Linked DNA regions of Homo sapiens: region 1 is linked to region 2. The links come from fine-mapping of genetic effects on gene expression. A gene starts in region 2. The other region holds a variant in brackets. All regions are shown on one strand. Distances are between the middles of the regions.

Evidence for each region.
Region 1: its variant is fine-mapped to the expression of DTX1 in whole blood (TOPMed, PIP above 0.99). The same link has a PIP of 0.9 or more in blood mononuclear cells.

The regions. Positions count from the first base shown.
Region 1 is chr12:113,086,736-113,092,107 of GRCh38, reverse strand. The region is part of intron 3 of DTX1 (deltex E3 ubiquitin ligase 1); the gene reads right to left. Among named protein-coding and RNA genes, the nearest start is that of DTX1, 33 kb to the right of the region's middle. RefSeq lists a silencer at 5,195-5,284. The variant CCTG/G (reference allele first, on the strand shown) is at 2,558.
Region 2 is chr12:113,053,484-113,058,855 of GRCh38, reverse strand. It overlaps DTX1 (deltex E3 ubiquitin ligase 1), which reads right to left and starts at 2,126. Exons shown (of 10, transcript NM_004416.3): 1 at 1,912-2,126; 2 at 405-1,407. The coding sequence starts at 663. It also overlaps the pseudogene RPS15AP32. RefSeq lists an enhancer at 100-888.

The sequences.
Region 1 (5,372 bases), 33 kb before region 2:
AACAAGTCACTTAACTTCTTGATCCTCAGTTACCTTATCTGTAAAACAGGCATATTAACACCTCACTTATAGTCGTTGGGAGGACTGAAGGAGAGCTTGCGGTGATGTGTACAGTGTGTCTGCCTGAGTCCTCCTGACTTCAGCACCTGTTTATGCAGGGGAACTGGTGTCTTGCTGTTGATGGGCATGGAACCCAGGCTGGATACGTTCTGATGAAGAGGGGTGTTCTGAAATCCAGGGGTCAGCCTGAAGGCCTTGGGGGATGTGCCAGGAGAGGGGGCAGGAAGGGCTGGGAGCAGTGACAGCTGGAGAAGGAGCTGCAGCAGCCCCCTTGGCTCTGGCCGTGCCTGTTCAGGTCACAGCCTGTCTAATGCTGTCTGGTCACCTGTCCTTGGCAGGCACAGTTGGCACCAGAAAGCATCTTCAAGCAAATGGTGCCCTTGGCAGGCTTGGGTACTGCTGCAGTGGGTGCAGACACACAGACATACACACCCAGGGCACACACCATCCACACAGATCCACAGATCCAAATATACACACATGCATGGAGAAGACCACACAGACTTATCATACTCCCCGGGACACATTACACACACATGTTTAAGTACACAGACACACAAACACACACAACCCAGGGAGTACATCACAGATACATGCACACACAGACACACAGATACCAGGGAGCCTCCCTCCCCATCCGTCTACTTGGGGAACATACCGCACACACTAGGGAATGCACACCATGAACATATACATGGATACACACAGGCACACTTCAGGGCACGCCCCCCACAAACATACATGGATTAAGATACACACACACTCACATATTCCAGGGAATGCCTCCCCACACCTACATACAGAGACTTGTGCACACACGGGGACACACACATACACACAGAAGCACACACAGCTCTCCCCTGGGAGGATACTCCATTGGACAAGAGTCGGTGGCTCATGTAGACCAGTACCGCACCTGCTACTGCCGCCCCTCTCCCCAGCTGCACAGAGCTGGGTAAGGTGGGCAGCAAACCCAGAGGAGCATGCGCTCAGCCCTACAAGCCCCCGGCGCGCTGCAGCCTGCAGAACGGCCTGCCGTCCACACGCGGACACACGATTCCGCACCGCCTGTGGGGAAGTACTCGTGCGTACTGATTCACATCATGCATGGGGGCGCAGGAGGACACGCTGACTCACTGCACACGAGGACACATGCGCACATGCTCTGACCCACACCTCCTGACACTGACACACAGACACTCAGCCTGGGAGGCCCACACCTGCACACATGCAGAGGCACAATCACACATGCACACAGGTGCAGCGCACACACACCCACTTGGTGGCTGCTCGGCTATACAGGATAGTATCACGTGGCCAGGACTCCCATCCCAGACCCCTCTGAGGGCTGTGGAGAGGTCTGGAGCAGACATCTGGATTGAGCCCCTTGAGGAGGCGCCGGTGTGATGGAAGTCAATGAACACAGCTCCCGAGGGAGGCAGGATGGGATGGCGGGTACCCTGGGTCCCCCAGGACCTGGTCAGTGGAGGTGGGAAGAAAGCACTGTGCCTCAGTTTCCCCACCTGTAATGGGGATAGAGTCCTGTGAAAGTTAAATGTGCTAAAACATGTAAAGCTCATCATTTGGCGCAGGGATGAGAGTGGAGGTGTCTTGATTTTCTTGTCGGGCACCCTGCGGGGGGGCCCCAGGAAGAGGGGCACTGAGTATTCATTTGACCCTTCTCAGGGTCTGTCATAATCCTCCAGGGCCTTCCTCAGGGGGGCAGCTGTCACCACTCTAACTTCCTCCCTCTCTATACTTTTATAGGAATGCATAGAGGCATTTCCCTCAAGCTTTTCCTCTTTCCTGCCCATTCTTCAAGCACCTCTAGTGCAGACAACCTGGTTAAGTCTAGGTCTGCCTCACCCCTCTTTCTTCCTTTCTGCCTCACAAGAAGAAAGTATCTCTTTTTTTCTCCAGGACTACCTATAAATTGGGTGGAAAGAAAAATATTGAGCATGCATACCACCACTGGTTGGTCTCCTGCCTGTGGCAGACATCACTAATCCATCACAGCACTCTCTCAAGCTTAGCAGAGTCCTCAGTACAGCTCTCCAAGCAGCCTCTATCAATCAGTATAGCCAGTTTGCTACCCCAGGTCTATATAATGCCCAGTCTGGCCCAGTGGGTAACCCTGCTCTTGCTGAGTGTTTGGTCTAGGAGTTAGACAGAGGGTACTCCAGGAAGGGAAGGATTTAGATCTCAGCTGCCCTAAAATTTCTGGAGCCCCTTAAATACCACATAGCCCTAGATTACAAAAGTCAGTCTTGCTCCTGGGAAGAGCACTGTGAGTGGGGTGTCACTGTGGGACTGTTATTTATTTACCCATCAGTGAGCCTGGGGGACAGTCCCGAGGTAGTCTCCAGCTTCTCTCTAACTGCAGGCCTCCTGCGAGAACCCAGGGTAGCAGAGTTCCCACGAACCCTGAGCGTGGGAGCCACCCGGCCCCCTTTTGATGTGGGACACGCTGTTTCCTCCGAGTCAGTGAGAACATCCT[CCTG/G]CCTGGACAAGCGACCGCTGCCTGCGGGCCTCCCGGAAGGGGAGCCAGCCTTCACCCCTAGCTCTGCCTTCTTGGGGGCCCAGGCTGGCACAGGACCTGAGGAGTCCCTCAGGCCCTCCCCGAAATCTACTCTGACCAGAAGGCAGGCATGGGCCCCACTGCCATGCAAGCCTCTCTGCCTTTCCCAGTCCCAAATCAGATCCCATCTGTCCTCTGCTCTCACTCCTCCTGCAGCTCCCACTTTGCTCACAGTTAACACCTGGCCTCCTGATCTGGCCCCCATCTACCCTCTGAACCTCATTTCCTATGTGTTCACCCCTCTCCCACTCCACTCCAGCCACCCTGGTCTCTCTGCTCTTTCTCAAGCATGCCAGGCACACTCCCACCCCAGGGCCTTTGCACTTGCTGACCCTTTCCCAAGGTGCTCTTCCCAGATATCCTCATGGCACACTCCCTCACTTAGCACAGGTCTCTGCTCAAATGTCAGCTTATCTGAGACACCTTCCCGACCACTTTATTTAGTTATTTATTTATAGACAAGATCTTGCTCTGTTGTCCTGGCTAGAGTGCAGTGGCTTAACCATTGCTTACTGCAGTCTTGAACTCCTGGGCTCAAGCGATCTTCCCACCTCAGCCTCTTGAGTAGCTGGGACTACTGGCACACACCACCACACCCAGCTTAAACAACAACAACAACAACAACAACAAAACTTTTGAGGAGACAGGGCCTCGCTGTGTTGCCCAGGCTGGTCTGGACCTGACCTCCTGGGCTCAAGTAGTCCTCCCTCCTCGACCTCCCAAAGTGCTGGGTTTACAGGCATAAGCCACTGTGCCTGGCCGCAACCACTTTATTTTTAAAAAGCCCATCTTTGTCCTTACCTTACTGAATTCTTTTTTCATAGCACTAATCACGACCTGACATTATAGTCTTTTTTTAAAATTATACTTTAAGTTCTAGGGTACATGTGCACAACGTGCAGGTTTGTTAAATATGTATACATGTGCCATGCTGGTGTGCTGCGCCCATTAACTCATCATTTACATTAGATATATCTCCTAATGTTATCCCTCTTTAAGCATGACCAGGCCCTGTATGATCTGGTCCACGCCGCCTCTTCTGCCAGACAAAGTTAGAGCAGGAATGTCAAATATATGAGTGCATACCACTACTGTCCTCCTAGCACCCACAGCAGGCATTACTAATCAATTTCGGCATGCCTTACCGCTAAGCCAAGATGCAACTTCAGAATCCTCCTCAACACAGTGCTCCAGGAAGTCACTGCCCTGGAGCAGAGATGGCACATGAGATGAACTCTATTTGTCATTTATTTTGCAGATGATGGGACTGAAGCCCAGAGAAGGGAAATGACTTCACTAAGGTCACCCAGCTGGTTGGTGGTGCAGCTGGCACTGGGTCCTGGAGTTTCCGAGTCAGGGGCCAGGGCTGACCCTGCCAGGTTGGTCTGTGGAGCCATCTGGAGTTGAGCCAGCCTAGAGAGCCCTCTGTGCTCTACAGGTGGGCTGAAGTCTTTGACCTGGATCCTGGAGCTGGCTCAGGCCTGGGCAGGGTAGATCAGGGCTGTCTAACTGGATCCATTGGCCTGCTTTGGCCACCTCTCTCTGTCCCCTAGAGGGGTCCAGGATCCCGAAACACTGACAACTGACCCTCCCTTTAGGGCAGCCAAGTCCCCTCCCTCCTCCAAAGTCTGGTCTCCTTATCTCTCCCCTCCCACCCCCAGCAGGCCTAGACTTGTTACTTTCTCTGATGCTAGTTTCCAGGTCCCCCATTGGCCTTGGCCCCCTTCAGGATACCTCACACTTACCCAGCAGACCCCAAAGAGCCCCAGGAGCCTCAGGACTCAGTCATTTGGGGCCAAGTGGGTGAGGAGGGGGCAGAAGTGAGGATGTCACTTTATGGGGAGAAGGAAGTTGAACAGTGCTTTAGGGACCCCCCACCCTCTCCCTTTCTCCTTTCTAGGGGTGTGAGCCTGTCACCTTTCCCCACTTTCAGGGCTGTCTCTGCCTCATAGCTGCCTTCTCCCCCTCCTCCCCCCACAGTCCTGGGGAACACAGCCTGGGGCCAAGTCCCTGCCGCCACCCCCACTGCAGAGACTTGAAGGACATCGCTGCAAGCCCGGGGGACCAGGTGCCCATGGACTCCTCCTCAGCTGCTGTCTGGGGTCCTCACTTCCCCTTTCCTTACCCCAGCACCTCCGTCTGCCTAGACAAACCTCTGAGCTTCTCTGGGCTTCAGTGTCCCCTCTGTGAAATGGGACCCCTTACTTCTGTCTTCTAGACCCCTTACTTCCATGTTCTAGAGATTAAAGGATGTAAAAGTCCCCTCGGGAGACATTTTGAGGTGTGAGTGGTATTGGAGGCTCAGATTTATCTAGAGGTATGGGGGCTGCGGGGGTCACTCTTCAACCCTCCCGGTCCTCCAGCCTGCCCAGCTCTCTGCGGGGGAAGGAACGGGAGGAGATGGTTGGGGGCAGGGAGGACCGGTCAGGTAGGGGAGGGGAGGGCAGGACCGGCTGTTCCCACGGCCCGGGGCAGCCACGTGCAGACAGGAGTGTGTGTGGTTTGGTCTCCCAGGGAGCAGGGCAGGAAGTGCTTCAGGTGGGGGGCAGGGTGGGGGGAGTGTTTGGTTTGACCTTGCAGCAGCGGTGAGGCGGGGTGACAGTCACTGCACACCAGTGGCTAGCGGGGCAGAAAAGTGGGGGAGGGTGGGCAGCCAGGGGCCTGGTGGGGTCCTTGACTTCACAGTGTACCTGTCAGTACTTTAACATTTTCAAACCCCTGAAATGTAATACTT
Region 2 (5,372 bases):
TACTGCCTGTGATTCTTGGGAAAAATCAAATGAGGAAGTGCATGTAAAGCCCTTATTCTACAATCCCATGCTACTGCTGTTCTAGGTTCTGTGCTCAGTGAGCACAATTTTATTTAATCCTCACTCAGCTGTGAGAGATATTGATCTACCCATTTTGCAGATGAGGAAACTGAGGCTCAGAGAGATGATGCAACTTGCTCAAGGCCCTACAGCTTGCTCAGAGGCTGCATTGGAATCCAAGTCTTAAACTGGACAAGGTTAGACTGCCCTGTTTTTCTGGAGGTGAGGCAGGGAGATGGGGAAGGGATTTGGCATCAGCAGATTTACTGGGATTTTCAGCATCCTACGCTGCAAGGTAGTGATGGCTCGGCGGGGCGGGTGGCATGGGGTGGGTGTCTGCTCACCTGTGTCCTGGCGAAACTGGTGCATGGACTGCAGGTCGATGATGTAGGGCACAAGCTGGGCGTCCACCTGCCCCAGGACCACGGAACCGCGAGCGTCCTCCTTCAGCACGTTCTCAATGTGGTGGCACACGGTGGCCGTGTAGGGCCGCCAGCGGCTGTGCTCATTCAGCCACTCCCACACCACCACCCGGGCCACGTTCTGCGGTGGGAAGCCCAGACCATTCACAGGCATCAGCCCACCGTGGCCTGGCCGTGACATGGCCGCCACTGCCTCAGGGGCCAGGTCCCCCACTATTGCAGGCCCAGCTCCTCCTGGGCCTGGCAGCAGGCGGCAACTTCCTCTCTCCCCAGGGGGACAGCAAGGACCGTCTGGCCTCCTTTCTAACTCTGGGTTCTCTCTGAGGCCTAGAGACCTCCGTTAAAGGAATGTGGGATGGCCATCCAGGCTGCAAAGACCCCTTCCCTGTAGAGCCTTCTCCGATAAAGGGTGCTGCCCTGGAAAGCAAGTGTCTCTCTTATGCCGGAGGAAACAGCTCTAAAGTCCTTGGCCCCCTCGGCTGGCTCAGGTAGGGAGTGAGGCAGCCGCCCCTGTTCGAGGTCCAGCCTCTTCCGTGTTGTCTCTTGGTCCCTCTTCCCCGCCAGACAGGGCCTGTCACCCAGGAGGCCTGGGCCACAGCCTGCTGCTCCTGCGGCTCTCAGCCAGCCCTTTGCACTCCCAACTGCGTCCCAGACCCTGCGCCCGGCTTCAGTGGGGCTTCTCGCCTCCCTCCGGTCTGGGCCCCCTTCTCCGACGGCTCCTGCCGAAGGGGGCGTCCCTGCCCCCTTGTTCCCTCTCCACGGTGTCCTGGAAGGCCTGGGTGGCCGCAGAACGCACGGGGGAGGGGTGCGGCGTGGACCCTCGGGCGGCGCGCCTGGACTGCGGCTCCGGAGCTGGGCTGGGGGACGAGGGGGACGAGGGGGGCGGGGGCCCGTGGGCACGCCCCACCCCACTCGTGCTCGCGACCTGCCAGGAGACAAGAGGGGAGAGGGCCCTTTAAGAGGAGAGCGCAGCACCCCCTCCCCCCTTCCCAGGAGAGCATTCGGCTGAGAACAATGGGGAACCGAAGGGGGACAGCAAGGGGGGCGTACGGGGTCGCCCCGCCCGCTTTCCCTTGGGGCAGGCCTGGAGGGAAGGCAGGGGCCGGGGGCGCGGTTTTCCGAGACTCTCCGCCTGGGGGGCGCCCTCCTTGGCTCCCGGAGCCTTCCCTTCCCCCGGGGCCCTCGCCCTGCCGGGGGGATGCCGGGTGCGCTGGGGTGCGCCGGGAAGCACGGGGATGCGCGGCGCTGCAGGCGCGGCCCAGGGCCCCTCGGGGGTCGCGTCGCGGAGGGGGCGAAGCCAGGAGCTGGATCGTCTCTGCCTCCCGCCCTGGGGGTAACAGCCCCGCTTCCCCAGCCCAGACGTCCCCGAGCCGCTCGCGGGCCCCCAGCGGGAGCCGGGGGTGGGGTCCCTAAGCACCCGCGTTCTCACCGCCTCTCTTCGTCTCCGGCTCCGGCTCCGGCTCGCGCTCCAGCACCGCCGCCTCCTGGGCTCCCCCCGGAGTGGGAGGGAGCCGCGGTCCCGCCTCCGCGCCCGTTCCCTCCCAGGCCCCTCGGCCGCCGCGCCGAGCTTTCCGCGCGTGGACAGACTGCCCGGCCGACGGACGGACGCAGGAGCCGGCTGGCGGCCGCCGGGATCTCGCGGGTGGGAGGAGGCCTCGGCCGTGCTCCGGGAGGGAGAGGGGAGGGGGCGGAGGAGGAGGAAGGGGAGGAGACAGATCTCGGCCCTGAGCGCCACCGGCGCTGACACGCGAGTCTCGGGGCGCCCCAAATCCTCGGCCAGGCCCTCCCGAGACCCCAAGGGGCCTTCTGACCCCAAGCAGAGCGTGAGGCAGGGAGTGGGATGTTTAGGAGTCACCGGCTTGAATCTTTGTCATCTTTATTTCCAGTCTCCCAGTCCAGGGCCTGGCACTGAATAGGTGCTCAATAAATGCTTGAATGAATGAATAAGATCCAGAGACTGTCTAAAGAAAGATCTTGAAGCATTCAGAGCTAGCCTCCTTTCCTCCTCTAACTATTCCTGGGGGTGGGAGGGTGCTGACAAGGCCTGATTCAGACTCAGTTGGAACCGTGGAATCTGAAGAGTACAGATGAGGAGACTGAAGCCAGAGAGAGTAAGAGCCAGGCCCAGGATCACAAAAGCTTAGAGCGATGCCCAGACACCAACCCCGATCTGAATCTCCTGCCAGTACCCAGTTCCCAGCCCTGAGCCCACTTCCCCCAAAGCACCCACCTGCTCCAGGTGAGAGGGGTGGGACCAGGGGAGGGGACCCTGGCCAGGAGGTGAGATCCTGGAGGAAGAGAAGGGCAGGCCCTCTGCCATGTCATTCACAGCCACCTGCAAACAACTGGTGCTCAATAAATGGTGGGTGAGCATTGGTTGGATGGAAGGGAAGGCTGGAAATGGCAGCGGCTCAAGTGTTAACGGGATGGCCAGTCCCCCTGTCCTCCAGCAAGCTGGATGCGGCTGAGACACACATTGGCTGGGAGGGGGGTGGACCACCTGGGGCCTGGGGGTGTTTAGATTGGGGAAGATGAAGGATGCGTCCGGGAACTCCAGCCTGGGTGGCTGACGGGGGTCAGTGGCCTGTTTGGGCGCCTGCCCAGAGCAGCCCACGCCTGCCTCCCCGGGGCAGATGGGGATACACTAGGCAGGGTCAGGGGCAGGCTGCTCAGGGGTGCTTTCCCAGAATCCAGCTCTGGCTCTCCGGCCAGCTGGAGGGACCTCCCCTCCCCAGGCCCCTGCTCTGACCTGCAGCCCAGTGTTGGATGGGCTTTTTCAGATTGGGTCAATGATTCTGCTTGCTTTCACCTGCTGTAGACTAAAGAGAGAGGCTTTGCATAGGGCAGGGCCAAGTCTGACGATACTCCCACAGGATCACTGAGTTCTGGGATTTTAGCCTAGGGTCCCTGGATGGCCTTCTGGGGTCCATGAAGTCCCCCTCTCCCATTACAGGCAAACTTGTGTGTCTAGGCATTGTGTGTCTTGTATGTCTGGGAAGAAGGGCTCTGGCTGTCAGCAGATTCTTCTCACAGGAGACTGTGACTGAACGGATTCAGAGCAGGTGCTCAACCAGCTTATGTTGTAGAAGGATCTGGGGATCCCACAGTGGAGAAGAGATTGGCTCAAGGTCGCATGGTGATTTAGCAGCAAATTGGAAAGAAGAACTCGTGTCTCTGGACTTCCTGTCGAATGCTATTTAAGGTCTGATTAAATGTCACCTCCTCCAGGAAGCCTTTCCTGAATTCACCCCATCTTCCTCTGTGTTCCTTTGCCCATACCTTGACATGACACCCTGTATCACAATTAGCCTCTTAAATGAAATCTGTCCCTGCTAGAGTGAGATAGCCATCATATTCATCTTGGTGTGGTGTGGCTGGTGCCCCATTACATAAGGGTGTCATTTACTGAGTGCCTATTATGTGCCAGGCACTTAAATAATACTTACTACTCTTCATAACTGCCCCACAAGGAAGGTAATGTTGTCCTCATTTTACACAAGGAAACAAAAAACCTCCTGAAGCTCAGAAAGGCTAAGTAGCTTACCCAAGTTCCCACAAGGAGTAAGTGGCAGAGCTAGGGTCTGAGTCCCAAATGCTTTTGCACCTCCCATAGCACCATGCTGCCTCTGTGTTTGTTGAGTGACTACTGGATGGCACCCAGCTGAGGATCTGGTGCAGAGTGGCCCTTAATGGCCCCTCTCAACTGGGTTTGGAACATCTGGGAATGCAACACTCTGCTCCCAGGGAACTTGGGGAGAAAAGAATTCCAAGGAGAGGGAAGGAATTTGGCCACCAAGGAGCCCACAATTCATGGGAGGGATGGCTCAGATACCAATGGGGAAGTCAATAGGACAAAAGCAAAAGCAATCAATCATGAACTGTTTTTTTTTTTTTGGTCCATTGAGGCATTTTATTCATATGAATTTATTACATCCCTAGAAAAACAATCCCAGGATTTTCCCTCCTGTGTATTTTTGTCTTGCTTCCTTGCAATCCCTGATACCAGCTGAGGTTGTCAGGACAATGAAACCAAAGGGGATAGGGGTACCATTTTTCTAGATCTTTGAGTTGCACATCAAACTGGGGCTTGTCACTGTACACTTGTTTAACCTGCCTGTGAGGTCCACAGTGATTTTTCTAGCTCTGTGATTATTGATGATTGCAAATTCACTGATGTAAACTAAACTTCATCATCACACTTAGAAACTAGATGATGATTTTGGAACACAACCTAAAACAACCTGGTATTTGCTTCTCTTCTCAGCATGTTGATGCTATTGAGAACACTGGCCAGGACGTTCACATGCACCATTATAGCAGCTCAGAAAGATGGCAGAAAGAGACCAACTCATTTTTTTTGTTCTGCCATCCACCATCCACTTATCCATCCACCCGTCTATCCATTCATCTATCCACCCATCCTCCATCCATCCATTCCACCCATCCATCCACCCACCCACCCACCCACCCACCCATCCATCCAGTCATTCACCCATCCACCCACTCATCCATCATCCATTCATCCATACACCCACCCACCCATCATCCATCCATCAATCCATCTATCCATTTATTCATCCATTCATCTATACATTCATGTATGAAATTTCCCACCTTCCTTGCTTCCCTTCCTCCATCTCTCCCTTCCTTCCTTCCTTCCTCTTTTTATTTTTATTTTTTTAAGATGGAATCTTGCTCTGTCACCAGGCTGGAGCACAGTGGCGCAATCTCAGCTCACTGAAACCTCTGACTCCCTGGTTCAAGTGATTCTCCTGCCTCAGCCTCCCAAGTAGCTGCAATTAGAGGCACGTGCCACCACGCCCAGCTAATTTTTATATTTTTAGTAGAGATGGGGTTTCACCATGTTGGCCAGGATGGTCTTGATCTCCT